Regions from separate parts of the Homo sapiens genome. Here all the other regions are linked to region 2. The links come from fine-mapping of genetic effects on gene expression. A gene starts in region 2. Each other region holds a variant in brackets. All regions are shown on one strand. Distances are from middle to middle.

Region 1 (7,575 bases), 52 kb before region 2:
GAGTGTTGCTACAAATACTGAATCCCTAAGCTCCTTGTAAATGGCCGGCCAGCGGAGGGCATGGGGTGGGGAAGACTGGATACACACCCCTGTGCTCTGGGAGTACGTTGGCTGGGCGGCATGCTCATTAGCTGCTGCTTCCGAACATAGGTTCAGCTGAAGTGTATCCCAGGCAGTGGACACTTCGTGTGGAATTCAGAAAGGTGGCGCAGGAAGGATACCAGGGAAAGCCAGAGTGAAGGCATCACCCTTGCACAGCTAGCACATGTGGGGGCTCCCATTGTCCCATCAAGGCAGGGCCAGAACCAGAAAGTCGGCTGGTGCCCTGGGCCTGGGCCAGTGATGGGAGGCTCCTCTTCTCTGAGGGTGGCACCTACAGATGCAGTGGCACTGGGTTTCCTGGAGCCCTCATCAAGGAAACTTCCCAGCATGGCCTCTTCAGAACTCCACAATCCAAACTTGGAAGAGACTCGAAAGACCACTTAGTACCTTTTCTTGCCCAGTATAGAAATTCTTCTTCTCCCCTTCTGTGTTAGTTTTTTATCGCAGTATAACAAACTACCCAAAACCTACTAGTTAAGAGCAACAGTAAACATGTATTATCTCTCAGAGGTTTCTGAAGGCGAGGAACGCAGGAGCGGCATAGCTGGCTGGCTCTGGCTTGGAGCCCTTCTCGCGGTTGCAGCCCAGCTGTCCGCCGGGGCTGCAGTCATCTGAAGGCTTGCCTGGGGGAGGCAGACCCACTTCCAAGGTGTTGCTGCATAGGTAGTATGCCCTGCATGAATCGCCCTGTTCTACGTGGGCCTCTCCGTAGCACTGCCCAAGTGTCTCAGGATGTGTAGCTGGCTTCTCTGAGTGCAGAGTTCGGCACACTCTTTCTCTAAAAGGCCGGCTAAAAAAATGTTTTTGGCTCTGTGGGCCCATACGACCTTGACTGTGACTACTGGACTCTGCCACTGTGGAGCAAACACAGCTGTGGGCGTCACATAAGCTAGCGTGGCTGTGTTCCAATACAGCTTTATTTTTAATACTGGAATTTGAATTCCACATCATCCCTGTGTTGTCACAAAATATTCTTATTTTGAATTTCTTTTAGCCATTTACATGAAAACCATTCTTAGCTCATAGACCTTGGAAAACTAGGCAGCAGGCCAGATTTTACCCACAGGTACATAGTTTGCCTGCTGTGCCCTAGAGTAAAAGATCCAGGACCTGAGCAGAAGGCACGACGTCCTTTCTGACCAAACCTCAGAAGTCACACTGAGGCTCTCACCTTCTCCTTCAGGTTACACCATGTGAGAGTCAATCACGTGGGGATGTGAGCTCCAGGACACAGGGGAGAGGACCACTGGGGATCCGGGAGCCTGGCTACCCCCCAGTACCCCACCAACACACACACACACACACACACACACACTGCCCCTCACAGGTGACCATCTGCTCCACACTTTGAGCAGCGCAGCCACTGTTTTCTTGCCAGCCATTATGAGAAAAATCATGCTTTCAAGTCTGAATATAAGCCATGGAGTAAGAGGTCTGATGACCACTGAATCTGCATAAAGGTACAGTGCTAGAATCTAGGCTAATACTAGAACTGGTGGTATTTTAGCAAGCTTAGAAACAGCCCATGAAAGCAGGTGTGAGTTCTGCTTCTGTGGTTTAGGGTGGGTGAGGGAGAGCGGTATTGTTCTGTGCTTTCTCTTTGACTCGGGTAAACGTTTATCTACAAGAGACTTGTGGGATTCTTACTTGGTCCACCTCCAGGTGACTGGGCTTTTACTATTAATGTAAACTGCCTGGGACGCAGCCCCTGCCATGGGAAACGCAGGGCACTTCCTGTTCTCAGCATAGAGTGACAAGGAAATTTACTCAGAGCGGTTACTCTGACATTCAATGTTTAGTTCAGGAGGCATTTCTGCTTTGCCATCGAGAATTTTTCTCCCTTCTAAGAAAATGTTTTCTCCTGAGAAAATTTTTCTCCCTTCCAAGAAAAGAGTAGAATGAAAGGAGGCAACTTGGTTTCATAGGGAGTGTCATGTTGTCCTTCTGAGTTTACTGATGAGCTTACCTGAGAAAGGAGGGTTCTAGCATGGGAGTTCTGTTGCTACAAGACATGAAAGAATGGCCTCCGTTTATCCCGGAGAGGAGAGTCCCTGAGCCCTTGGGAGTTGCCTTGAAACCTCTGCCGGGTCCCAGGTGAGAAAGTGTGTGAGTTGTGTGGTTCTGAGATCTGAACAGGCACCATCTGGTGACACTAGGGGCTGAAGGAGCTCGGTGGCTGCAGGTGGACTGGAGCTCACCATCAGGAAGTAGCCAGATTCTCACCCCTCAGTGTCACCGAGTGTTCTGGCTTTAGAGGAAGGACTCCGTGGTCCCCAAGCCACAAGGTGTCGAGGTCTGAGTCTCAACGCCATGACTCAGTGTGAATTAACTTAGCAGGTATCACAACATCAGATTTGGGTTGTGGTTCCCTGCTGGGTCTGTACTTTAGATTGATGACAAAGCCCGTCCTCAGCCTTATTTCAGCCCAGATCTCGGTATTTATGCCACAGATACTGTTGAGCTCCTCTGGGTGCGTGCTGACCCTGAGGTCACACAGATGAGCCAGGAGTGGCCCTGGCTTTCAGGAAACGTAGTGACGTAAAAGGTCCCGGCTGCTGCGGGATAAGGGCCAGGGCAGAGGTGTGAACGCAGCCGTGGAAGACTTGGGCCAGGAAGCCATTTGTTCTGCTGCTAACACTTCCACAGCTCCACGTGTCCAGACTGTTGCCAGAGACGTCTTTGGTCTACAGGATTCAGGAGGGAATCTGAACTTTAGCCTGGAGCATTATCAACTCATAGATGAGTCTGAAACAAACTTAGTGAAATCTGATGTTTTTTGTAGTTTTCCAGTACAGTTTTTCCCATCGCTGGAATCCTGGTTTGGTTCTGCGGGAATCGAGTGCTTGAGTGGGACCCAGACAGACAGGAAGGGCGCTCCTGCTCAGTTAGCCCCAGTAAGCTCACTGAGGCACACAGGCCCCATGTCCACAGCCGCTCCTGGCTGAGGCGTGGTTCCTAAGACGACCCTTACTGTTGAGGGCTGCCAGGAGGGAGAGACACATTCAGCCCCGCAGGTCCTCTGGGAATCCGGTGAGCGTCGGCACCGGGCTGGGGCCGTGCTGATTCCCGGCAGCGTGTGGGAATGTGCGGGTGCCTCGTGGCCTGCTGACATCGCACACAGGTCACAGCCTGTCCAGTTCAGGACATCAGGGCCAAGAGTGAAGTGAGAATACGGAGGCACCTCTGTGTGCTCACCCTGCTGACCGTCACCCAGCCTCCGGGGGGGGTCACAGCTGGCCCCCAGGAAGCTGCTTCCCAGCAGGGCAGGAATTCCATTTGAGTCTTGTCCCTGTTCCAGGAGAAGGGCTGGGTATGTGTCCCCCAAAGGGGAGAGCATTCGAGAAGGATGGCGCCAGCCTCCCCAGAACTGACCTGTGGTTAAAAAAAAAAAAAAAATTGTGCTTTTTAAAAGATGAGTTTTATCAGCTCACACATCCTTCTAGAGTCTAATGGAGATTTTTTGTGTGTGTGGAAATAGTAAACAAGGTCTTGAATCCCACAGAGCAAAAAAGACTTCCTTTCATGGGCAGCACTGGAAGGGTTGTTACTCTGGAATGGTTTAAAAGAGGCGTCACATGGCTTGTTTGTGCTGATGTCACTGCCTCGCTGCTCTCCTGTGGCACCTCCTCGGTCCCTGGCCACAGGGCACAGAGCCAAGCACATCTC[A/G]TGCTCTTGGCCCAGTTACGCTTCTGCCCAGGGGTAAGTCAGCTGGAGAGGAATTCACAGCCCAGGCATTTCATGTCGTTATGGCCTATTTTAATTTTTTTAACCCCAATCATTTTTCTTAGGAAGTGATGGGGAGTTTGGAAAGGCAGGCTTATTTGTCATCAAGCTGCCAGCTTTTATCAATGCAAACCACATCCCTGTGACATCTGTGACTGTTCCTTGGACAGTTAGGTGAGGGAGGGTCTCCTGGTGGCCCCAGGGTTACTCTTATTTAGGTTGAGAAAAATTCCTTTTTCCAGGATCGTTGGTGATCAAAGTGTAGTCATTCTGTTGCGCAGAGAACTCCATCCCAGCTCCACCCTCATGAATTTTGTAATCTTGGACAAATTATTTAGTATCTTAGTGCTTCTGTTCCCTCATCTGTAACATGGGGGTATATTATAGTCAGTAGCACCTGCTTCACAAACTCGTGAGGACTTCAGCAGTTCACACACATAACTGCCTCGCTGCCTGGCACCTAGCGTGCACATGGCATTCTACCGTGGGGTAGACTTTTAAAATTCTGGCTACAGAGATACTTTTCCATAAAAGTGGCCACATGGAACTCTCCAAATCTAAGAAGCATACTGTGGGGGCCTTCATATTTTGTCTAATTCTTTTCTCCCCAGAACAGGAACCTGCACCCTTCCTTCTTTTAAAGGGCGACGTGGTAAATAAACATTTTTAGACTTGCAGGCCACAGTCTCTGTCCTAATGTCCTCAGCTGGTAGTTGTAGCTGGAAAGCAGCTGCAGCCCACATGGAAATGAGGGAGCGTGGCCCCATGCCAGTGCAGCTGATGTAGAGGCGGGCAGCCCCGGGTTAGGCCCTGTGGAGACGCAGGCCCCCGGGCTCTAGAACGCTGAATTCTAGTGAATTCTGGATGGCTCTCCCTCACACCCAGGCCCACCCTCCCTCAAGGTTGCACCTTCTCCACCTGAAGGAAGCTGCCAGGTGGCCATAGGAGCCCTTCTCTTGGCAGGCCAGCTTCCAGGCCCAGTGGCTTCTCTTACATCAGGGGCCTCCCCTTGGAATGTTCCCTGAAGGCCAGACACGGGCAGGTAGTCTGTGGTCAAGCAGCCACCCTGACAGGAGGCTAGATGCCACTGGGTGTGCTTTGAGTTTCCTAGATGTGGAGAGTTCTGTGTGGCCACTTTTATGGAAAAGCATCTCTTTAGCCAGAATTTTAAAATAAAGAGGATAACTTCCTGGTGAGAACAGACGTGGAAAGGAAGGCACTTTGGTTTCACGCTCATGTAAGAGAGGGCTGTTGGCGGTCACTCCTCAGAACTATGGCCAGCCCTGGATGGTAGCCAGCTGCTTTTTGCCCCAAAAGTCTGTTTAGCTGGGTCTCTGCATTCTGGAAGCTTGTCAAAGCCCGGGCCTTTCCTGGGTCAGGGCAGCCGGCTTTCCTTGTCCACGTGTGGCCGGCTGTTTTCTTGGGGAGCCCCGGCCACAGCCGGCAGGACTCCCTTTGCTCCATGTGACTCTGAGGGCCTCACAGGTATTTGCAGCCCAGGTGCTGTCGGAGCCCAGCCGATGCGACCGACACACAGCACAAGCGTCATCCTGTTCTGCCTGTCCCTTGCGTGTGGAGGGGACTCGTGCCCAGGGCTCTCCTTGCTGGCTTGTTGGAATCTGGCTTCAGGTCTACACGGGGCCTCTCGTTTGGTCCAGAACAGCCTGGCTCATCGGCTGGGGCTTGCTTGTGCAGGGCTGGAGCGAGCACGTGCTAGATGGAGACAGCAGACTCGGAGTGTGCATTTCTTCGTGTTGCAAGCCTGGCCTCACAGTGCCTTCTTCCTTTGGTTGTCTGCCAGGGGTAGCCCTGCACCAGGAGGAAGCTTAGAAATAGCACAGGTGGGAACCGGAGAGAGAGCACTGTTGGGGAAGCTGCGGTCACTCATCAGCCTTCCTGGTGAGAAACCAGGGGTTTCCTGCTAATTCTGGAAAGGATGTTTCAGCAGTGCCTGCATGAGACGCCTCAGATAGAAAACTGGTTATTTTTGTTTCTTAGCACTGCCACCATAGATAACAGCTGTCACGATGGACAGTGTGGACCTGGATTAGTCCTTCTTGGGAAAGGAGAGTTTGGGTTTTGTACCGTGGTGGTTCTGGGTTCTGGGGGAAGAGAATGGAACCGTACGAGGTAAAACAGGAGACTCTGAAGGCCACTTGGCCATCCAGGCAGAAAGCCAGGGATGGAGAGGGGCAGCAGGGCTGTGTTCAGTGCTCCCGCCGTACGCTTGTATGCGGGAAACCACTGCAGGCGGCCCATGAAGCCTCCTGGCCATGTGCGCCCTCCCGGTTTGGACCCCCTCCCGTGTGTCTTGGCTGCAGGTTTGAACTGATGCGCATGTGCTGGCAGTATAACCCCAAGATGAGGCCTTCCTTCCTGGAGATCATCAGCAGCATCAAAGAGGAGATGGAGCCTGGCTTCCGGGAGGTCTCCTTCTACTACAGCGAGGAGAACAAGCTGCCCGAGCCGGAGGAGCTGGACCTGGAGCCAGAGAACATGGAGAGCGTCCCCCTGGACCCCTCGGCCTCCTCGTCCTCCCTGCCACTGCCCGACAGACACTCAGGACACAAGGCCGAGAACGGCCCCGGCCCTGGGGTGCTGGTCCTCCGCGCCAGCTTCGACGAGAGACAGCCTTACGCCCACATGAACGGGGGCCGCAAGAACGAGCGGGCCTTGCCGCTGCCCCAGTCTTCGACCTGCTGATCCTTGGATCCTGAATCTGTGCAAACAGTAACGTGTGCGCACGCGCAGCGGGGTGGGGGGGGAGAGAGAGTTTTAACAATCCATTCACAAGCCTCCTGTACCTCAGTGGATCTTCAGAACTGCCCTTGCTGCCCGCGGGAGACAGCTTCTCTGCAGTAAAACACATTTGGGATGTTCCTTTTTTCAATATGCAAGCAGCTTTTTATTCCCTGCCCAAACCCTTAACTGACATGGGCCTTTAAGAACCTTAATGACAACACTTAATAGCAACAGAGCACTTGAGAACCAGTCTCCTCACTCTGTCCCTGTCCTTCCCTGTTCTCCCTTTCTCTCTCCTCTCTGCTTCATAACGGAAAAATAATTGCCACAAGTCCAGCTGGGAAGCCCTTTTTATCAGTTTGAGGAAGTGGCTGTCCCTGTGGCCCCATCCAACCACTGTACACACCCGCCTGACACCGTGGGTCATTACAAAAAAACACGTGGAGATGGAAATTTTTACCTTTATCTTTCACCTTTCTAGGGACATGAAATTTACAAAGGGCCATCGTTCATCCAAGGCTGTTACCATTTTAACGCTGCCTAATTTTGCCAAAATCCTGAACTTTCTCCCTCATCGGCCCGGCGCTGATTCCTCGTGTCCGGAGGCATGGGTGAGCATGGCAGCTGGTTGCTCCATTTGAGAGACACGCTGGCGACACACTCCGTCCATCCGACTGCCCCTGCTGTGCTGCTCAAGGCCACAGGCACACAGGTCTCATTGCTTCTGACTAGATTATTATTTGGGGGAACTGGACACAATAGGTCTTTCTCTCAGTGAAGGTGGGGAGAAGCTGAACCGGCTTCCCTGCCCTGCCTCCCCAGCCCCCTGCCCAACCCCCAAGAATCTGGTGGCCATGGGCCCCGAAGCAGCCTGGCGGACAGGCTTGGAGTCAAGGGGCCCCATGCCTGCTTCTCTCCCAGCCCCAGCTCCCCCGCCCGCCCCCAAGGACACAGATGGGAAGGGGTTTCCAGGGACTCAGCCCCACTGTTGATGCAGGTTTGCAAGGA
Region 2 (7,575 bases):
AGAAAAAAAAAAGGGCAGTTATAGAAAATAGTGAGATTAAAAAAAAAAAAAAGCACTGAGAAGCCAGGTACCTCCTGGGATAATAAAAATACAATAAAAATGCAGCAACACACACAAAAATCACATTCTGCTTTAGAATCATATTTGTATCAGCAAATATGACATCTCTTATCTGTTTTAAATTAGAAAAATCAACTCTGCAAGTGAAGGTTTGAAGCTCTTGTGTTTCAAGTTCAAACCTCACTTTAAACTTGGTCAGCCCCCAGTGCAACTTGCAAACGGAGCTGGAGAAATCTTAGAATTCTGAGAGGCCCGTGGGAGGGATGCACGTTTTCTCACTCTTGTGGTTATCGTTGGTGCCAGTCTGAACACTTTGATCTCGAAGCAATTTGTCGGAGCCCTCGTTCTCCCACCATCTGTCTACATGCCAATTGTCTTGAGGAGATTTACACACGAAGCAAATCCAATTAAATGAAGAGACTGCCCCTGGCAGCTCTAAGCATTTCTAACACAGGAAGGCCACGCTCTGGAATCCAGCGGGCATTCCCAAATCATGGCTGATTATCAGGTATTTCATCAAACAATTTCCAGTTTGCCAGCAAACCACAGGCTGACAAGACAAAGGCAGGGGTCAGTGTGATTCTAAGATGGTGCTTCAATGTTCATATTTCATTCATGACAAGCATTGCATGCATTAGAGTACAGTTTCCTTAGGAATTCAAGAGTAATTTGAACCATTCAATCTCCAGAACCAAAATAACACAAATAAGAGCAAGGGAGATAAAAGGTTTCCCAAAGAACTTTTTCTCTGAAGGTCGATAGGAGTTAGAATTATAGTCTGAAAAGATTAAGCGACACAACTTTCAATTTCCCATTCATCCAGGAAACCCTGCCTCTTCATCCAACACAATTCAGAAAACTTAAAACCGGCCAAATGTGTCTAACTAAAAATGAAGGCTGGACATGATGGCTCATGCCTGTAATCCCTGCATTTTGGGAGGCCAAGGCGGGAGGATCACTTCAGCCCGGGAGTTAGAGACCAGTCTGGGGAATACAGGAAAACCCTGTTTCTACTAAAAACTAAAATAAAATAAATTGGGGGGTGTGGTGGTGAGTGCCTGTTGTCCCAGCTACTCCAGAGGCTGAGGTGGGAGGATTACTTGAGCCCAGGAGTTTGAGGCTGCAGTGAGTTATGACTGAGCCACTGCACTCCAGTCTGGACAACAGAGGGAGACTGTCTCAGAAAAATTAAAAATATAAAAATAAAAATAGGGCCAGGCGCAGTGGCTCATGCCTGTAGTCCCAGCACTTTGGGAGGCCTAGGCGGGCAGATCACAAGGTCAAGAGATCGAAACCATCCTGGCCAACATGGTGAAACCCCATCTCTACTAAAAATACAAAAATTAGCTGGGCGTGGTGGTGCGTACCTGTAGTCCCAGCTACTCGGGAGGCTGAGGCAGGAGAATCGCTTGAACCCAGGAGGCGGAGGCTGCAGTGAGCTGAGCTTACGCCACTGCACTCTAGCCTAGCGACAGAACAAGACTCTGTCTCAAAAAAAAATTAATAAAAATAAAGACCTTTGTGAAGATCAGGCCCCCAGGGACCAGCTGGGATGCTGACTTGGTGAGGCAAGTGTGGGTGGGGGTGACTCTGGATGTGCTGGTGTTTGCAGGAGTGAGCAGCCACCATTCCTTCCAAGTTGACCTTCTGGGGCTCAGGGTCTCCAGCTAGTGGCTCTCGGGGGGTGCTTCACAGCTCCCTGAAAAATGGAAGTTCTTACTCTGGAAGTGGGGACTGTGTGTTCCTTTGCGGGTGGCTGTTGTAGATGGGTTTGCAAGCCTTGTGAGGGCCCTGTGGTTTCTGGGCGTATAGATCCCTCTTCCTTGCTATGAGCCTGCACCCCCAAGGGATACCTCACGTGCCTCGGGCCCCACTCAGGGAAAACAGGTACCAGCCTCAGCTTCCTCCCTGCTGGGTTGAAAGGCAAGGTCTGAGCCTAAGCCACCAGTGGCACCTTCGTGCCCGCCACTCGAGAGTTACTTGAAGCGAATGAGCCACAGAAGCAGAAATGCCTGTGATCCTGATTGTTTATTAATAGGGCACAGCAGCAAGTTCGTTTCCATCTGGAATTATTAGCACCACCAGTTGCCATTCTTTTTTTCCCTCAGGGAACTATTTAAGACCCAGGATCAGGCCAGTGCGCATTCCAGGGGCAGGCTAAAAGCAGCAACAAATAGGAGAGAAAAAAATTATGTAGTCTTACCAGTCACCACCACGCAGCTGGGCTGGGAATCCATGAAGACGAAGTGGGAGCTCGCGCTGCGCCTCCCTGGCTCAGGCAGCGGCCCAGCGGCCGGGCTCTGCGCGCTCTGAGCTCCGGGCACCTTCTCTGCCTGGCCGCGTGCTCGCCGGGGACCGGGGTGGAGCGGGAGCCCAACCCCTCCTGGCCGCCCGGCGTCCGTAGCGTTCTGGGCCCCGAAAGGCCAAGGATCTAGGGGAGGGTGATAAAGCAATGCCCCTTGAAAGCAGAACGATCCAGCTCAGGACAGCGGGTTGGAGCGCCAGCAGGGACTTTCTGGACATTTGAGTCTGGGTCACTTTGTTGTTCAGGATGGTTCAAAGGTGAGCTAAGGGTTTGGCTACCAGCTGTCCCGGTTTGCCTGGGACAGAAGGATGTCTGGGACGGAACACCACATGGTGCTCAAAGAGGTACTGTCCTAGGAACTGTGGGCTACCCTACAAGTCGTTTACTTAGATCTTATTTTTTCCTCTTTAGTAATCCCTGCCAGAGCCCCTCATTGTGTTTGGCCATTATGATTTGGTAAAATTTGATTGCTCTGAAAACTAATTCCACAAAATATGTGAGATGTGAGCAGAAAAAAAAGAGAGAAAACCATAGATGAATCTTATGGCGCCTGCCTTTAAAATATTGATTGCAAGCACCGCTGCCTAGGAGCTGTGGGTCCTCAGGGAAGTTAACCTCTGTGCTCAGGTTTCCTGTTTTGAGAAACGAGGATCGCAGCACCGGATCCTGTATGGATTCTTTCTGTGCCCCAGGCACTGTCCCCAGCTTCATCAGCCCTGAGGAACAGAGGCTTGCCACCTAGCTAGCGTCTGTGCAAGCTTGCTAGCTCTGTGCTCACCACCCTGCGTTCTACCTGCGAAAAGTGCTTTCTTGACACTGTGCTGGACTCCTTAAACATGCCACTGACAGTGAGCCACAGCCGTGGCATGCCACCTGGCTCTGCAGACAGTCCTCTTTTTAATGTGTCAGAATAACTGAAAAAGGCTAACATTTGAGGCTATTTCCTCTATCGAAAAAGCTGTTTTCCAATATCTTGATCTTTCGGAGAATTCTATTTAAAAACAAAACAAACTTTTGGCCAGGTGCACTGGCTCACGCCTTTAATTTCAGCATTTTGAGAGGCCAAGGTAGGAGGATAGCCTGAGGCCAGGAGTTCAAGATCAACCTGGGCAACGTGGCAAGACTGCATCAATTATTTTTTTCAAAACGTGGTATATGCCCATAGTCCTGGCTTCTCAGGGAGGCTGAAGCGGGAGGATCACTTGAGCCGTCAGTCGTAACTGCACCTCTGCACTCCACCCTGGGTGACAGAGTGAGACCCTGTCTCTAAAAATATTCTTAAACTTTTTTTTAAACTGAAAATACTTTTTTCCTGAAGCTGTATATTAAGAGGAAGAAGACCCATGATTCTCTGTCCCCATCTAGGTCTGGGGAGGAGAAGCTCCCTTCAGGGAAGCAGGCAGAGCCTCTCAAGCACCCTGCGGCCTCTAGAGAGCTCAGTGTGACAGCAGGACCACGTGGCTCCATCTGCTGAATTGTCCTCCTGATATAAAGCGCTCCCTTTTAATTGGGATCACCCCCGCGGATTAGACCCCCCTTGGTGGCTTTCTGGGATTCTGAACCAGGAACAATTCCCTTTAATTAGCTCCTGGTGTGGGCTGCAGGCCTCTTCACTGCCAACAGGTGGGAAGCGCCATTTGCTCCCACTAGTCTCCCACTCCCTGTCCTGAGAAGCTGGGCCCACCTTGCCATGAGTGGGATGCAGAGGATTTTTGTACTTTGCCTCATTTCACAGAAGTTACCCGGTTTCTCAATATACCCCGGATGCACTTGTAGACTTGGTCTCTACCTCCTCTGGTGAGCAGCTCTCCTAGCTCCTATCACTTACCTAGTTCCGTCATGGTGTGTCCAGAATCGGCGGATTCTTGGTCTCACTGACTTCAAGAACGAAGCCGCGGACCCTGGCGGTGAGTGTTACAGTTTTTAAAGGCAGCGTGTCCCAAGTTTGTTTCTTCTGATGCTCGCATGTGTTCGGAGTTTCTTCCTTCTGGCAGATTCGTGATCTCGCTGACTTCAGGAGTGAAGCTACGGACCTTCATCATGAGTGCTACGGCTCTTAAGGTGGCGTGTTTGGAGTTATTCGTTTCTCCCGGTGGGTCCGTGATGTGGCTGGCTTTAAGAACGAAGCTGCAGACCTTCACGGTGAGCGTTACAGCTCATAAAGGCAGTGCGGACCCAAACAGTAAGCAGCAGCAACGGTTATTGCAAACAAGCAAAACAACAAAACTTCCACAGCACAGAAGGCGACTCCAGCAAGTTGCTACTGCTACCTGGGGCAGCCTGCTTTTATTCTCTTATCTGGCCCCACCCACATCCTGCTGATTGGTCCATTTTACAGAGAGCCGATTGGTCTGTTTTACAGAGAGCTGATTGGTCCGTTTTGACAGGGTGCTGATGGGTGCGTTTACAATCCTGGAGCTGGACACAAAAGTTCTCCACGTCCCCACTAGATTAGCTAGATACAGAGTGTGGACACAAAGGTTCTCCAAGTCCCCACCAGAGTAGCTAGATACAGAGCGTCGATTGGTGCATTCACAAACCCTGAGCTAGACACAGGGTGCTGATTGGTGTGTTTACAAACCTTGAGCTAGATACAGAGTGCCCATTGGTGTATTTACAATCCCTTAGTTAAACATAAAGGTTCTCCAAGTCCCTTCCAGACTCAGAAGCCCAGCTGGCTTCACCCAGTGGATCCCGCACCAGGGCCGCAGGTGGAGCTGCCTGCCAGTCCTGTGCAGTGCGCCTGCACTCCTCAGCCGTTGGGTGGTCGATGGGACTGGGTCCTGTGGAGCAGGGGGCGGCACTCGTGGGGGAGGCTCAGGCCGCGCAGGAGCCCATGACGCGGGGGAGGAGGCTCAGGTATGGCGGGCTGCAGGTCCCGAGCCATGCCCCGCACGGAGGCAGCTAAGGCCCCGCGAGAAGTCGAGCACTAACAGCTGCTGGCCCAGGTGCTAAGCCCCTCACTGCCCGTGGCCGGCGGGGCGGGCTGGCTGCTTGGAGTGCGGGGCCCGCCGAGCCCACGCCCACCCGGAACTCGCACTGGCGCGCAAGCGCGGCGTGCAGCCCCGGTTCCCGCCCGCGTCTCTCCCTCCACACCTCCCCGCAAGCTGAGGGAGCCGGCTCTGGCTTTGGCCAGCCCAGGAAGGGGCTCCCACAGTGCAGCGGCGGGCTGAAGGGCTCCTCAAGTGCCGTTAAAGTGGGAGCCCAGGCAGAGGAGCCGAGAGTGAGTGACGGCTGCGAGGCCTACCAGCATGTTGTCACCTCTCAGTGGGGGCTTGGCTTCCTCTGCACAGTTAAAGGAAGAGATTGGACCATTAAGAAATGCCCACTTCTTCTTTTTTTTTTTTTTTCAGATGTAGTCTCGCTCTGTTGCCCAGGCTGGAGTGCAGTGGCGCGATCTCGGCTCACTGCAGCCTCCGCCTCCCAGGTTCAAGCAGTTCTCTCCCTCAGCCTCCGGAGTAGCTGGGATTACAGGCACCTGCCACCAGCCCTGGCTATTTTTTGTATTTTTAGTAGAGACAGAGTTTGACCATCTTGGCCAGGCTGGTCTTGAACTCCTGACCTCGTGATCCACCTGCCTCGGCCTCCCAAAGTGCTGTGATTACAGGCGTGAGCCACCGCGCCCGTCCAGAAATGCCCACATTTGTAAAGTTGGTTGCTGCTAGGGTCCAACTCTGCTATCAACATTCACCTATGAGGTCTGGGAATGGGAACTTGTGTTTAAGGAGACTCCTTAAGTGCAAAGACTGCCCATCTTTAACCATACTACTTTTCTGATAACAAAGCTGAAATTTTCATCATTTTTTTTTTGATTTGACAGGAGCTATTATTTTAACTAAACTGGAATGTGTCCTGCAGTTTTCACTTTCCCATAATTCACTTATTTTTTTCTGTTCTAAAGTTTTCTCTAATTTTGAAATTAATAGAAAAAACAACACAAAATATTTTACTTAGTCACAGTGATATGTCTATTTTTGTATTCATTCACCTCCCCTCTCCCCACACAAGAACCCCCCAGCACATTCCTACTTTCTGGAATGAAAATAGCTCTGAGAAGTATGGATTTTGAGGTTCAACATCTGCACTTTTATTTCTTTTTCCATTGTAAAAACAAATGGTCTCTAATAATTGATGTCAAACACAGTCTTTAGGCTGATGAAATACAGTAAGCCTGAGAACGAATAAGGCAACTAAATGGAGCTGTTTTATTTAACAGAGAGCACAGTGATCTTCCTTACAAGCGGGATTCCCGAGAGGAAAATGTTTGTAATCAGATTTGACTCTAGGATTAAGAGGGCAAGGTGCGACCCTCTTAGTGAACCGGAAAGTAAGCAACGGTACACAAGTGTTCTCACCAGGGACAGCAAATGGGAGTTGCCAAGATTACAAGATCCCAAGACCTCAACTATTTCACGTGCTGAACTAAACTCAAAACTTTGTGGGATTTGTTTTAAATTTCTCATTGGCAAGTGGTGACTTCCTGCTCTCGCAAGAAAAAAGATTAAAGGGGTTTGTTTACTGTCTCTGACACAAACAGCTCTTACAACACATTTTGTACACTTGACATAAATGAAATTTAATCAAACTGGTCAAATTCCTTTGGGAGGTGGGGAGAAAATAAATCAATCAGCAAGAAGCACTTGTGATTTCCAAAATAATGATAACATAAGTCTTTCTCCATGTCAAACATCACTGTTTCCAGATAAGCGACTTAGCTCTACTATAAAACACAACCCATAGCCAAATTGCTTCTTGTCAAAGCACTAAGGGATCCTCCAATAATGTCACTCTACCAAGGCAGATTCAGAACTCACCCTCCTCTATACCTCTGCCTCTGCAGCTTTGTACCCCAGCAGGGGCCAGCCAGCACACGATTTCTGAAAAGGGCCATAAAATAAATGAATAAATGTAGTAGACTTTTTTTTTTTTTTTTTTGAGACAGGGTCTCACTCTGTGGCCCAAGCTGGAGTGCAGTGGTGCAATCTCGGTTCACTGCAACCTCCGCCTCCCGGTTCAAGCAATTCTCGTGCCTCAGCCTCCTGAGTAGCTGGGATTACAGGTGTGCACCACCACACCCGGCTAATTTTAGTAGTGCCTGTAGTCGCAGCTAATCGGGAGGCTGAGGGAGGAGAATGGCGTGAACCTGGGAGGCAGAGCTTGCAGTGAGCCGAAATCGCATGCTGCACTCCAGCCTGGGCGACAGAGTGAGA
Region 3 (7,575 bases), 440 kb after region 2:
AAGCTTTTTCTCTACTCCCTGAAGACCAACTTGACGACAGAGGCAAATTGTGCACTCTGGGACATATTCGTCCCTTTTGGTTGGGTGTGTTTTGGGCACAGGCAGTAGCTGTGCAATGTGCACGGTTCGGCATCCTGCTTCCCCCTCACTCTCCTATGCTGGAGAGCATTGTAAACCCACCCCATCTGCAGTTGCCTTTAGGTGGGTCACCACATGCAGTGGGGGATGTAGTCTCAGCACCTGTGCTGGGGCTCAGAGAAAGGACCTGGCACCAGACATCCATGAAACACTTGGATAGCCCCTGGGAATGCCACCCTCCTCCTGGAACAGTTGGTCCAGATTGCTGATTAATGTTTACCAGAACAATTTAAAACTCAACTTTGCATTCAAAAGAGAGCCCAATGCTATACCAGAGGCAAAGCTTTGTGATCGCATCTGAGCTTTGTTGACGTGCTTAGAGCTGTTTGTACACACTTTTAATTGGTATATATACACCGACTTTTGTTTTGCTCCCTTTAATGCCACTGCTCATAAACACTTCCCTGTACTAACATAAGATCATATCTTTTTGATTTGCAATGGAAAAACTGTGTCACTATTTTTTCCACCACTCAAGCATCTATGGACTTGATCTTTTTGCCAGAGTTCTCTGGCTGGCGTTTGAATACAAAAAAGAATGTGAGCTATGTCATCTGAAAACTGCTGATTAACTCTTAAAATTTCTCAGCTCTCATTTGCTCCACATGTAAAGATTAAAAGCAATAATAGTCATGTGATTGCCTTCTTCTGCTTCAGAACACTCCACCCCCACCCCATCTTCTCCACACATGCCATTCCTTGCAGGCTTCTGGCAGTGGAAAGGATTAGTCAACTATGTCAAAGGCCAGGAGCCAAACATCACGCCCCGCGCTAGCCAGGAAAACCCTCCCCTCCCAAGCCGTGCCCTCTCCCTGCCAGCCCCAACACCCCAGGCACCTGGTACAAAATCATTGAGCCGAGAGTGGGTGCTTCGGTGGCTAACTCTCCCCTTCGCAGCATTCACGGAAATACTCACGGGACCACGCTGGAAAAGAGCATACGGGGTTTCCCCTTGAAGGGTGATGAGGCTGAGTCTCCTTAAAGACAGGATTGCCATTGCAAATGTTACGGCAAAGATGAATTTTGAGCTCGGTGCAGACATAGGTAACCAAAGACGTGATATCACCACATGTACTGGTGTTGGAGAGCAGTCACCCAATCAGAAAACATGACAATGGATGGGCTGGTGCTGGACCCTGGAGCCCACTTCAGGGTGGGGTGAAGCTGTTAACCTTCGAGATGCTGGGTCCCCTGGGGGCTCTGGAGAAAGGCTAGGTCAGCCAACCATGGGGGCACAGCAGTGGGTACTGGGCCATAGTCTGGAAAGATGGCAGGGTCCTCATAACCAGCGCAGCCATCACTGGGAGTACTGGCTAAACACTAGCGCCTGGAGTGAGGGAAGTGCGGGGCTCCCGTGGGTGGCTCCACCTTCTTTCCATGCACCTGCCCTGAGGCTGCCCTCAGCAATCCTTATATCCTGCAGAGAGACCTAATTCCACAACAGGTTAGTATAAAAGGGGTAGAGTACTGTTTGGGGAGCCAGGAGAGACGTGGTCCAGCACAGGGCAGGAGCATAGCAATTCCTCAGGAGCTGTGCCCATTTTTTTCTGTTTGTTTGTTTTGTTTTGTCTTTTCCTGAAACGGAGTCTCACTATGTTGCCCAGGCTGGAGTGCAGTGGTGCGATCTCAGCTCACTGCAATCTCCGCCTCCTGGGTTCAAATGATTCTCCTGCCTCAGCCTCCTGAGTAGCTGGGATTACAGGCACCCACCACCATGCCTGGCTAATTTTTATTTTTTGTATTTTTAATAGAGATGGGGTTTTGCCATGTTGGTCAAGCTGGTCTCGAACTACTGACCTCAGGTGATCCACCCGGCTCGGTCTCCCAAAGTGCTGGGATTGCAGGTGTGAGCCACTGCGCCCAGCCAGGAGCCGTGCCCGCTCTTTCCCAAACAGCTGCCCAGCCTACCCCTCCTCTCCTCCACGCGGCCTCTCAAGACCTTGCTGGAGGTCCTGGGCAGCTCAGCTCTGACACACGTGACTGTTTCGGTCATGGTTCACACTGGGCAGTCTGAATGTGAAATTAGGGTGATTGACAATCACGCCAGGTGCCACCCTAGCAAACCACGAACTTCTGTCTCCCTCGCTCTGACTTATAAACCCTCCTTGGCACAAGAAAAGCCAGTGGTTTGCTAAATAGAGAGCCATTATTCCCTCCAAGCATTCTCCTTGGAGACAAGAACAAGTTTCTCCCTATGGGTCAATTCAGCTGCAGAGAAAATACTTTCTAGTCTTCCATGTATATAGTCAGAAGGAAGAAAGGAAATAGGCACATAAATAAATGCACATTTTGTGGGCAGTCTTTTTGTGCCAGGAAATAACATGTTCAATGTTATTTAACTTAAGCCACACAGGTCTGTAAGAAAGGTGGGGTTTCCCCCTGCCGTTTTTGTTTTTTTTTGTTTTTTTTTTTTGAGACAGAGTCTCACTCTGTCATCCAGGCTGGAGTACAGTGGCTCTGTCTTGGCTCACTGCAACCACCACTTCCCAGGTTCAAGTGATTATCCTGCCTCAGCCTCCCAAGTAGCTGGGATTACAGGCACCTGCCACCAGGCCTGGCTAATTTTTGTGTTTTTAGTAGAGACACGGTTTCACCATGTTGGCCAGGCTGGTCTCGAACTGCTGACCTCAAGTGACCCACCTGCCTCGACCTCCCCAAGTGCTGGGATTACAAGCATGAGCTACCATGCCCAGCGGTTTTCCCCGTTTTACGGATGAGGAAATTGAGACTCAGAGAGGTTCCCAACTGGTGGGTGGTAGGGTCAGAATTTTAACCAGCCAGTCAGCTTGTCTGACATTATGTTCCAAACTTTTCAGAGAACAAATCACCCATATCTCTAAAAGGCAAGACACAAGGTATACTCAGAAGGCCATTTACCCTTCAAATGAGGACTCAACTTGAGGCTGGAGACATATGGCCCCTTCCTTCACAGCATTTTTCTGTTTTACTTTGGACCTTTTTGACATTTTTCATCAGTGGGCTGCTGCTGACTGGTTTTGATAGGCACATTTTTATTTACATGCAAATTCTCAGCAAGCAGCTCACATGTAAATACTATACTAATTATTAAACTTGTATGGCTCATCAGAATGCTGCATCCTAATTGGCTGCAAGATTGTCGATAACCGACAGTAGCCTGATTTGGAGCCTTACCAGTTTTCACATCTGCATAATAAAAGGGAACAGGAGGTTGAGAGTGTATACCTATTTTATATGTGTTTCTTCAAGGTCAAATAATCTTTTATTTCCTTCCCAATCTACATATTCATAAAGACCTTTGTGCAATTAATGAGACGGAAGATTAAATGGTTGCAGATTAAGAACAAACCCTACTATTCTAATTAGAGTAAAAGTTACTTAGTCAATCAGATTAGAATTCCAGATTCAAACTAGCAAACACCGAGGCATAATAACGCCAGCACACACCGTCCCCCTGACTGAACTGGTAGCTGACACACAGCTAGTGCAGCCGGGCAGGAAAGCCATGAGCCCTGGGAATTCTTTTTGCCTTTGCAAAGACCCTTCTAAGTGCCGCCAATGGTGGAAAAATTGAGAGTAGGGGATGGAATCTCATCTCATCACATCACATCACAACAAGGCAACATTGTTTGGCCCCATTGGGGTTACAAGAAGAAAGAGTCTGCCCACATCAATTGGTTTGTGATTTTCCCCAGAGTCCTCTTTGGGGAACGTTAAGGAGTTTTGGCAAACAATGAGTACTTATGGATGAGGTCTTGGGGCACTGGGGCTGGGTACAGAGATTTAAGATTCGGTCCCTTCTGTAAGGGAGCTTGCAGTTTCCTTTGGGACATCAAGACCTGTACATCTGGAGATGATTTTGAACGAGGTCTTCACTTGGGCTCCACAGACGGCCGGAGCAGTGTTTCTGGTTGTTGCTCTTGTTGTTTTGTGTTGTTTTGTTTTGTTTTGTGATGGCGTCTTGCTCCGTCATGCAGGCTGGAGTGCGGTGGCACCATCTCGGCTCACTGCAACCTCTGCCTCTTGGGTTCAAGTGATTCTCCTGCCTCAGCTTCCCAAGTAGCTGGGATTACGGGAG[C/T]GCACCATCAAGCCTGGCTATTTTTTTTGTATTTTTTTACCAGAGATGGGTTTTTGCCATGTTGGCCAGGCTGGTCTTGAACCTCAGGTGATCCCCCCACCTCGGCCTCCCAAAGTGCCAGGATTACAGGTGTGAGCCGTGGCGCTTGGCCACGGAGCAGTGTTTCTTGAAGTACGGGTCTAGAACAAGCATCTAAACAACTTCAGGCCAAAATGCAGATTCCCTGTCACCCCAGACCAGCTGGTAAAGCTGGAACATCTGTATTTTTGACAAGCCCCTGATGATTCTGATGCACATTGAAGTTTAGAAACCACTGGCTTGAAGAGTCCCTGAATGGACTTCAGCGAATCCACAGACGCCCTGACATTGCAGACATTTTATATTTTATGTACATTTTTCTAGAAAGAGGTCCATAGCTTCCATCAGGTTCTCAAAAAGTGTCCATGCTCCAGAAAAAGGTTAATATCCCTAGAATAGCAGAAAGGGATTAGGAGAGGGGAATCCAGCAAACCAGCAGACACTGGCCACATATGACCCAGGGCAAATCATGGAACCTGAAGTTTAGAGATATCCCCAGTGCAGTGCGGTGTTGGCGATTCTTTCCTTCAGCCCCAGTGGTGCAGGCAACAGCACTACAGGAGCTCAGAGGAAAGAGCCAGGGTGAAGCGATGGCCTGGACGAGAGCTCTTCCCAGCAGAGGAGGGTTCGTCTGGTCCACAGAGGAAGGGCAGTCCAGCTTGCTCACGCGGGGTTTGCATAGCCAAGGCACCAGCCAGGCGGGGACACGCACACAGGGAGCACTGGGAGTGTGAGTCTCCTCCTCTCTCTTTGCCCTGTCTCTCCTTTGCCTCCATATTCTCAGGAAACTTGGAGCTTGGTCCCATTCGCACCTGAAGCAGATGGTGCACCTTCTCCGTCCTGAGTGCCGCCCTTACCCAGCGGGGGCAGGAGTCCTCTCCAGACTTTCTGCAGGATCGCTAATGAGATCAAGTCTGCCTGTCTGGAGGGGCGATTATCCTGCGGCAATGGGTTATTACCTTTTACAAGTGGCGCTCGGCCTTCCCCGCTGCCTGCGCGCCTGGGGCGCACACACCTGGGCGGGGACAGGGCAGCTGCTGAGAGCCACTCAGCAGCTGGCAGCTCATTAGCAGACGCAGCCTCGCCAGCGGGCAGAGCCAAGTGGGGGACAGCACTCGGGCCTGTCTGGGCCTCAGGACCAGATCGCAGGAGGAGAGTTGCAACCCCAACCACCCTGCCCCCAGCCCAGCTCAGCCCTGGAATTGGGGCCGGGGATTCCCTACCATGCAGGGGTCCGGGCGTCTTAGAGAGGCAGGGTCCTCATTTTTTGTGGAAGGCTCTGAGGCCCTTGCCCTCCCTGGCCCTAAATGAAAACCCTTCCTCTGGGCCCGCGGGACAGTGAAGGGAGGCATCAGGTCTCCAAGCAGGTTTACCCTCCACTCTGACCTGCGGCTCCTCGTCCCTGAAGCTCAGGAGAAGCCTCTAAATTGCAATCCATCTCCCCCAGAGATGGATTTTCCTGCCCCTCCCTGTACATCCCATTGCTCTGGGGTCAAGCTGGCATGCTTGCAGAGACAGAGGAAGGGGAGGCACGGGGGCGGGGGGCGGGGTTAGCGCAGTGCCTGGACACGCCCACTGCCCCGAGGAGGCCCCGCCCACAATCTCCGGGCCAGCCTGCAGGGAGGACCCGCAATCTTAGAGCCAGGTGCCACGCGCTTTCCCCATCACTCTTCCCCCACGTTAACCTCCGTCCACCCGCTGTGCTGCACTCCCCAGCGCGGGGCCTATGGAGGCTGCCAGCTTCCTGCGGCCCCCACACCTGTTTTTGCTGCAGCTGCGTGCAGGCCTCTGGGGGTCTGCCAGGGCTTTCGGGAGGTCCACGTGGATGTCTCTATCCTCGCCCAGTGAAGGAAGCCTCCTCACACTCTGCCTGAGCACCTGTCCTTTGGCTTTGATCTTCGTCCAGACCCAAAGCCCCACATATTGTCTTTCATATTATTCGGTGGGGGGAGAGGGGTGACTGTGGGAGGGGAGAAAGAGAGAACGGAGAGAACAGTTGTCTGCACCTGGGTCATGGTCTGCAGCATCAGATAAGGGGTAAAAGACACCCAGATAATCCACACTCCCCACCCAGCTTGGGGCCTAGAGAAGCAGAGGCAGGGAGGCCTCATGGACGGTGTCTCTGCTAGTCTCCTCTGGCTGCCCTAACAACACGCCACAACACACCACAACACACCACAGACCCGGTCGCTTAAACAACAGAAGCATGTTTTCTTAGGATTCTGGCAGCTGGAAGTTTGAGATAGAGATGTTGGCAGGCTTGGTTTCTTCTGAGGCCCCTCACTTTGCTCTGTAGACCGCCACCTTCTTCCTGTGTCCTCACATTATCTTTCCTTTGTGTCCAAATGTCCTCTTCTTCTAAGCACACCAAGTCAGGCTGGATTCGTAACCCCCAATGACCTCATTTTAATTTAATTACCTGTCTCCAAATATGGTGACATTTGGAAGTACAGGGAGTTATGACTTCAACAAGAACTTTGAAAAAGGACGCAGTTCAGCCCATAACAGTCTCCCAGGGACCCCACAATTCCTCCAGGGTTTGCCAACCTCCAAGGCAGAACCTGAACCCCTTTCCTGGGGAGTTCCCCCGTCTAGGTGGAGAAGCAGCAGTGAAGGAGGCAGTCATGTGTCCAGGTGCAGGGAAAGCCTCTTGTTCTCCGAGCCGGGAGATCCTGGAAATAATTGTGAAAGGCCGTCTGATCCAGGTGCCGGTTCCAGTGGGGCATCAGGGAATCTTTCAAGTTAACCTGTTTTTTTGTTTTTTGAGACAGAGTCTTGCTCTGTCGCCCAGGCTGGAGGGCAATGGTGCGATCTCGGCTCACTGCAACCTCCGCCTCTCAGGTTCAAGTGATTCTTCTGCCTCTGCCTCCCAAGTAGCTGTGTGCAGCACCACGCCCAGCTAATTCTTTTTTTGTATTTTTAGTAGAGATAGGGTTTCACTTTGTTAGCCAGGCTGGTCTCGAATTCCTGACTTCAGGTGATCCACCCGCCTCGGCCTCCCAGAGTGCTGGGATTACAGGCGTGATTAACCTTCTTCAGTTGAGCATTTGAGGAGGCCTCCCCTAGAGAAGCACACACCCAACCTGATGCTATGAGGCAGGTTTCCTTATCCCCACTTTACAGAATAGAAAAGTGAGGCATGGAGTCACCCAAGAATCAGGAGAGCCAGGATTTGAACCCAAATTGTCTAGTCCTGGAGCTCAGGCTTGGACTTGAAGAACTTGAAGAAAACGTGAATTTAAAAAAATATATATCAAAGTGGAAAAAGCTTTTTAAAACATAACACGCAACCAGAAGCATCA
Region 4 (7,480 bases), 38 kb before region 2:
ACCTCGGGGGGATGCTGGTGAGAACCCAGTGGGCCTCACGCAGAATGTGGGTCACTGGAGGAGCTCCAAAGTCCTAGTTACTTTCTAGCTGCTGCTCAGTGATCTCTGTCTGCCCCTAGGGACCCTACAATGTAAACATTATTTTTGTCAGGGGAAATGGCATGTATGGCAAGGTGTGTTCTAGAATCAGACTAAGGATTCAGACACATCAGGCAGAGAAGCTGGTCATTTCCTTCAACTTTATCATGGGAAATTATGCTCCAATAGCAAAATCGGGCCAGTAGAAGAAGAGCTGTCCAGCAATGTATAGGTAGAAGTAAACCGAAGACCATGGTTACTTCAGACCTGTTGAGCCTCAGAAGTGTTTGCACCTAAAAGCAAAGGCCTTTCTGAAAGGGGACTCTCAGCTGGGGTGCGGTGGCTCACGCATGTAATCCCAGCACTTTGGGAGGCTGAGGTGGGTGGATCACATGAGGTCAGGAGTTCAAGACCAGCCTGGCTAACATGGTAAAACCCCATCTCTACTAAAAATACAAAAAATTAGTGGGACATGGTGGCGGGTGCCTGTAATCCCAGCTACTTGGGAGGGTGAGGCAGGAGAATCTCTTGAACTCAGGAGGCAGAAGCTGCAGTGAGCCAAGATTGTGCCACTGTACTGCAGCCTGGGTGACAGAGTAGGACTCTGTCTCAAAAAGGGTACTCAAGCTTGGCATTGCTTCAGGGTTACTGCTCAGTGTTGTCACCGAGTGCCTGGCACTCAGGGGATCTTCATTAGGTGACTGATGATGAGGAGGTCTCAATTCTGAGGCTGGAAAGCCCAACAGGGCCTCCTCCTTCCCTGGTCAGGTAGATGCTGCCCTTCCAGGTTGCCACAGTGCAGTCTGCACTTGGCCTGCCCAGCCAGAAGGAGCAGCAATATCTAAGGATGAAGGTGCTGGGTCTTCAGAAGCATTAGAACCTTTCCCCTCCAGGCCATTTCTTAAGACTGCAAGCCCTCAAGAGCTATTTCTGCATTTACCCCCCAAGTCCAGGTATGAGTCCATACTCACTCAGATGTGTGATTTTTGTAGTGTTCTAATGTTGCTAAAAAGACCTTCACATCCATTCTCTCACCAGATGTTCACAATCACCCTGCAAAGGAAGGATTTTAATTACTCTTACAGATGAGCAAACATACAGGCATGCTCAAGACCCCTCCCCCGCCCCCCCACCTCCCCACCAGCTACCAACTCAGGACTCAGCCTCTCAGCCTTTTCTGCTGTGGTTCTCAATCTGGCTTCAGCACTGCCAGAACTAAGCAGGCTCTGTGCATACTGACAAGGGATGCTGGGTGAAGTACACAGCCCAGGTGTGAATGAGACTTCTGGGGTTCTCCCTGGAGAACTTCAGGGGCCACAGCGGGGGGAAATGATGGGGAAGTTCTTGAAGAGGGAGCTCTGGGCCTCCCAACTGGATAATATCTAAAAATTTAAAAAATGTTATGGCATGCTGCCAGGCAGTCTGAAATATAACACTGGAGCCCAGTCCTGGGGGCCCCTTGCTTGCCAGTGTCCTGGGACAGAATTGCCCATAGCAGAGACAGATCTCCACATTAGCAACCATGCAGCCAGACCTGTGCACACCGCCCAGCACCACCTCCCCCCATCCCCCAATATGTGGGCTTTGATCTGTTTTCTAGCAAATGATCCAGGTGTACTTGCAAAGGGAGTCCCCTAAAGGCTACTCCAAATGCAAAAAGCGTGCTGGCGGCCTTGACTGCTTCCTTTGGTTTTCTTGTGGGTTTTTGTTTGTTTTTTTTTTTTTTTTTGAGACACAGTTTTGTTCTTATTGACCAGGCTGGAGTGCAATAGTGCAATCTCGGCTCACTGCAACCTCCGCCTCCTGGGTTCAAGCGATTCCCCTGCCTCGGCCTCCCAAGTAGCTGGGATTATAGGCACCCACCACCACACCCGGCTAATGTTTTTGTAATTGTAGTAGAGACTGGGTTTCACATGTTGGTCAGGCTGGTCTTGAACTCCTGGCCTCAAGTGATCCGCCCACCTCAGCCTCCCAAAGTGCTGGGATTATAGGTGTGAGCCACTGCGCCTGGCCTGGTTCCTTTGTTAGGAAGCTGCAAATGCTTTTCTTAATAGTGAATGAATCCAAACACTAACTGATGAATTTTTTAAATGTAGTCAAGTGAAAAATGGTAGTTGTAAGCACACCAACGTAACAAGAAATTTCCCAGAGCTCACCTACCTTCACTCACTTCCTCCAAAAAAAAAAAAAAAAGCGATGTTACCAATGGGACTCCCAAAGGAAATCTGCCCCTAGAAAACACTGAACAGGTAGAATCTTGCTGGGAGAAGCTTGGCACAAGACCCGGTGCTGTGTCATAAAAGCAAAACAAAACATGAAACAGAAAGGAGATTCTGCTTTTAAAAAGGGAAGACACCATGGAGAGAAGCTAAGCCCGGCTATTAACCTGCGCCTTCAAACCAAACACTACCAGTGTGACTGTAAAATGGTGCAGCCCCTGTGCAAAACAAAATGGCAGTTCCTTAAAAAATTAAACACAGAATTAGCATTGAATCCAGGAATTCACCTCTGGAGATTGACCTGAAAGCAAGGACTCGGATACATATTTGCACGCCAGTGTTTGTAGCAGCATGATTTGCAAGAACCAAAAGGAGCAAGTAACGTAAGTGTTCATCTACAGCTGAATGGATGAAATGTGGTCCATACATACACTGGAATATTATTCAGCCTTCAACAGAATGAAATCCTGTCCCATGCTACAACATGGATGAACCTGGAGGACATGAGGCTGAAATAATACGCCAGATGTAGAAGGACCAGCGCCGCATGACTCCCTCATATGAGCTACCTACAGTCAGATTCATAGGGATGGAGGGTGGAGTGGTGAGCACCAAGTGCTGGGAGGAAGAAGGAATAGGGAGTTAATAGGTACAGAGTTTCAGTTTGGGATGAGGAGAAAGTTCTGGAGATGGATGGTGGTGATGGTTGTACAACAAGGAAATGTACTGTATACTACTGAACTGTATGCTTGAAATTATTAAAATGAGTAGTAAAAGGGGCAAACACAGAGACAGAGAAATCATACAGTAGAGCCTCGGTGGCTTCGAGGCTACCCAGGACCTGGACACACAAGCTCAAAGGCCAGGAATGGGGTCCCTGGAGCAGCGGCTGTCTCTGTGCTTCTGTAAGCATCTCCAAAACAGGTCTGTGGTCCCCACAGTCTGCGCAGGATCACACAGACCCACTGTGTAGATTTTTGGAAGAAAACAGATGACTCGGATTTCATTTTATTGTCATGAAAACCATAACTGAAGCTAGTTCATCCCCTGTGAAATGTCCACCTTTCAGAGTGTTCTTTCTCCTGACAATAAAATAACCCTTTGTGATTTTGTTGGGCTAATTCAGAGTTTTCCACCCTCTTTGTCTTACAAGCAATTTTTGAAAAAGTTTCTCAATGCACAGTTGAGTGCTACATACAGGATTGAAACATTCAATTTTCTCTAGAGGAGCAATCCCCCGGTCAGTTCCCTTTGGCTGGAAGGACCATGGTTGAGTTTTCTTCGAACTGGGCTCTGTGCTTGGGCTTTCCCACCTCTTCCAGCATTTCCTGGATGATGACTCTCAAGGCTCTTCCCAGCAGGCTGGCCGGGAGCCCGCGCGATAGTGGAGGGACATGGATGAGTGCCGCGCAGCCCTTTCCATGATGCAGAGACAGGTAATAGGTATAATCACAGACGTATCTGCAACCACAGGAAATGCCACATTAATTCTCGGACCAGCCTCTAACCTCAGTGAAACATACGCAGAAGTGGCAATGCAACACCCACAAAGCCTGAGGAGGGAGCACTGCCACCCAAGGGAGACTTGTGTTGTTTCACCTCAGAAAGAACATGGTGCCAGGATGAGCTGGGGAGAGCTGGCTCTTGGCCTCATGGCCTCATGACCGGCAAGTGGCCAAGGCAGAAAGGGGTCAGATATTCCACAGCACCTGCATCCCAGTGAATCCCTCTCATTCATGTCTTCGTTGAGTCACTTACTCATTCATTCACTGGGGAAAGGGGAAAAACCACCTACTGGGGATCGGAGTTTGGAGAAACAAAGGTAAATCAATCTTTATCTGGGGCTACATCAACACAGTTAACTCACAACTTCGGTCACCCCAAAAATCAAAATCAGAAAACATTCACGAAATGTTAGTGGCTCTTGAAGTCTGCCTTCCCATCTCTTCTCCTAGATCAACACACCAAAGACCGTGTTTCCACAGGCAGGTCTCACAAACGAGACCTCAGGCAAGGTGTGAGCAACTGTGCTGGCCTGCACACAGCAAAGAGGGGCAATCTGGGGGCGGCACCGCATGGCCAAGTGGCCAGCTGGACGATACAGGATGGCTTCTTGGAGGTCGGGGGGACGCTGACGGCCATTGCTTCTCTCCTACCTGCTCAGAGTCCTGACACCCACAGAGCATACCTGCCTGCATCTCGGGAAAAGATCACGTCGACACCCTCCACAGCTACGCGCTTGCAGACTGCCTTCATGCAGACCCCTGACTCCAGCACGTCTGGGCTGCCAGGTAGGCACACGCCGCCCTCGGGCCAGAAGCTGCGGATGTCGGCGTCCCGGTAGCCTTGGTTCTTGCCAGACTGTTCCAGAATGATCGCCTTGGCGGCGGTGTCCATGCCCACATGCACGACGAGCTGTGTGAACGGGTAACAGCAGAGAGAACCCAGGAAAACGAGGCCCACCCTGCTCACCAAATGTGCAGAAGGGGCCACTCCTTTTGAGAGCCCGGCTCTGTGCAAAACATCTCAAACCCCAAATCCACTGGGAAACCCCAGGATCCCCCACCAGTGTCTCCTAATTAATATGGCTGGAAAGAAAAACAGCTGGATTCTTTTAGCTGAATAAAAACTCATGCTGCATTTACATTTAAATGCTTTTTACTTCAAATTATTCTTACAGGGTAATGTATTCTCTTTTTGTGGGGGGAGGGTTGGAGGGAGGAGAGGCAAGCTAGTAAGTGGTGAGGCTACCACAGCAGAGTCTTCGTGTTTTGGTGGAATCCTGAATCTTTTTATTTTATATTTTATTTATGTATTTATTTATTTTTATGAGACAGAGTCTGGCTGTATCACCCAGGCTGGAGTGCAATGGCACCATCTCAGCTCCCTGCAACCTCTGCCTCCCGGGTTCAAGTGATTATCCTGCCTCAGCCTCCCGAGTAGCGGGGACTACAGGTGCACCACGCCCAGCTAATTTTTGTATTTGTAGTAGAGATGGGATTTCACCATGTTGGCCAGGCTGGTCTCAAACTCCTGACCTCAAGTGATCCGCCTGCCTCGGCCTCCCAAAGTGCTGGGATTATAGGTGGGAGCCACCGTGCCCGCCTCCTGCATCTTTTTTTAAATGAAACTTTAATAAAGGAAGTTAGTGGCCATCCAGTGAAATCTTCTTAGAATTTATTCAAGCTGATTATTTTTCCTTTTTGAAAAATAGCTGCCCAAGTATGTTATCAAAACATCTGGGGCATTGTCTGAATGGCTTGATAGTGTATGTTTTATTAACCTCA[TCA/T]CATCTGGTCCTTGTTTGGGGTTTTTTTTGGGGGGGTGGGGTTGTATCTGTTTTTTATACAGTAATTATGTCCAGATAAAATGGGCTCGTGCTATGAAGATGGGCCTCCCCTAGGCTGGCCACCCTCCCAGTCGCTCCCTGGGCACAGAGGTCCTTGCCTCACGTCCACCTTCAAACCTACCTGCCCCTCATGGGTATGTGTGGGGCCCAACCCAAGGGCCTCTCCCTTAGGTGGAAACTATTTTTGAGTCCTGGCTGGGAATAATACTTCCATTTCTTTTCCTCCTCCTTTCTCTCCAGATTTTCTATTAAGATCTAATCCATATTTTGGCTTAAACTTTTACAAACAGACCCAGAACCTTACACAATCAGCTGGGACCTTGCATGACTGGTGGGGCCTGGGGACGGGGTGCCCCTCAACCATCAACCCTAGAACCAGGACCCGGGGGTTCAGAGGCTCCAGCTCCACATCGCCAGTCCCATGCCCCACTGCCTCTGGCCATCACTTACTTGCGGCTGATGATCTTCCCAGATTCCGGTGACCCTCCGCTTAGCCTCCCTGTAATCTACAGGCAGCTCCAGAGTCCGCAGCTGCACCACTGTTTCATTCCCCAGGCCCAGCTTGGAGAGCTCCTGAGGAAAGCGGCAGGTGGACTTGCCTCAGTTGATGGGGGGGGGGGGGGGGTGGGCACCAAGAGTCCCTGAAAACCCAATCCTTGGGGTCTACTTCCAGGGGTCTTCCGCAGCCTGGACTTTGCCCTCAAGGAGCTCACAAAGTGGCAAGGGGCCAAGAAGAGAGCCACAGTTCCTACCAGAGAGGCAAATGCACACAGCAGCACCTGTCTGTAATCCCAGCTACTTGGGAGGCTGAGGCAGGAGAATCACTTGAACCTGGGAGGTGGAGGTTGCAGTGAGCCGAAATAGTACCACTGCGCTCCAGCCTGGGTGACAGAGCTAGACTCTGTTTCCAAAAAAAGAAAAGAAAAGAAAAATCCAAAGTGTGAAGGAAAAAAAACCCACCAACAACAATACTGTACCCAGCAAAGCTATCCTTCAAACATGAAGAAGAAATAAAGACTTTCCCAAACAAAAGCTGAGGAAATCAATGCCAGACCTGTCTTACAAATCTAAAGGGTTCAACTTGAAAGAAACAGATACTAACATGTAACAAGAAAACTTCTGAAGGTATTAAACTCACTGGCACAAGTAAGAAAACACATTCAGAATACTCTAATATGGTAATGGTGTTAAGTGAATCATGTACGTCTTAAGTGTGAGACTAAAAGACAAAACTATAAAAAATAATTACTACAGTTGGTTGAGAGATAGGCAACATAAAAAGATAAAACTGAAACACTAAAAAGTCAAAAATGTGGGTGAAGGTTGGTGTTAAATTGTAGTTTGTTTTTGATACTTTTCTTTGCAATCCATGTTCAGTTGTTATCATTTAAAAATAACTTATTATAACTATCCAATTTTTTTATAAGCCTCATGGTAATCACAAAAGAAAAACCTGTTAGAGATACATTAAAAATAAATAGCATGGGCCAGGCATGGTGGTTCACACCTGTAATCCCAGCACTTTGGGAGGCCGAGGTGAGTGGATCACTTGAGGTCAGGAGTTCGACACCAGCATGACTAACATGGCAAAACCCCATCTCTACTAAAAATACAAAAATTAGCCAGATGTGGTGGCAAATGCCTGTAATCCCAGCTACTTGGGATGCTAAGGCAGGAGAATCACTTGAACCTGGGAGGCAGAGGTTGCAGTGAACTGAGATCGTGCCATCGCACTCCAGCCTGGGCAACAAGAGCAAAACTCCGTCTCAAAAATAAATAAATAAATAAATAAATAAATAAATAAATAAATAGCATGGAATAAAAACATTCTACT

Alleles and levels. Positions count from the first base shown, and alleles are read on the strand shown. Sizes are in standard deviations (SD) of each study's normalised expression. Not every link is listed here.
For the expression in skeletal muscle of the gene that starts at base 4,627 in region 2, TCA is the high allele of the variant in region 4 and T is the other (moderate effect, 0.46 SD a copy in FUSION).

What was found.
Region 1: its variant is fine-mapped to the expression of PGPEP1L in tibial artery (GTEx, PIP above 0.99). The same link has a PIP of 0.9 or more in aorta, coronary artery and visceral fat.
Region 3: its variant is fine-mapped to the expression of PGPEP1L in coronary artery (GTEx, PIP above 0.99).
Region 4: its variant is fine-mapped to the expression of PGPEP1L in skeletal muscle (FUSION, PIP 0.95).

What each region holds. Positions count from the first base shown.
Region 1 is chr15:98,950,915-98,958,489 of GRCh38, forward strand. It overlaps IGF1R (insulin like growth factor 1 receptor), which reads left to right. Exons shown (of 21, transcript NM_000875.5): 21 at 6,147-7,575. The coding sequence ends at 6,528. Among named protein-coding and RNA genes, the nearest start is that of PGPEP1L, 53 kb to the right of the region's middle. The variant A/G (reference allele first, on the strand shown) is at 3,769.
Region 2 is chr15:99,003,166-99,010,740 of GRCh38, forward strand. It overlaps PGPEP1L (pyroglutamyl-peptidase I like), which reads right to left and starts at 4,627. Exons shown (of 5, transcript NM_001167902.2): 1 at 4,194-4,627; 2 at 2,264-2,491.
Region 3 is chr15:99,441,824-99,449,398 of GRCh38, forward strand. No RefSeq gene overlaps it. Among named protein-coding and RNA genes, the nearest start is that of LINC03080, 10 kb to the left of the region's middle. The variant C/T (reference allele first, on the strand shown) is at 4,196.
Region 4 is chr15:98,964,940-98,972,419 of GRCh38, forward strand. PGPEP1L (pyroglutamyl-peptidase I like) reads right to left here. Exons shown (of 5, transcript NM_001167902.2): 3 at 6,097-6,219; 4 at 4,486-4,712; 5 at 3,290-3,758. The coding sequence starts at 4,694. The coding sequence ends at 3,539. Among named protein-coding and RNA genes, the nearest start is that of PGPEP1L, 39 kb to the right of the region's middle. The variant TCA/T (reference allele first, on the strand shown) is at 5,585.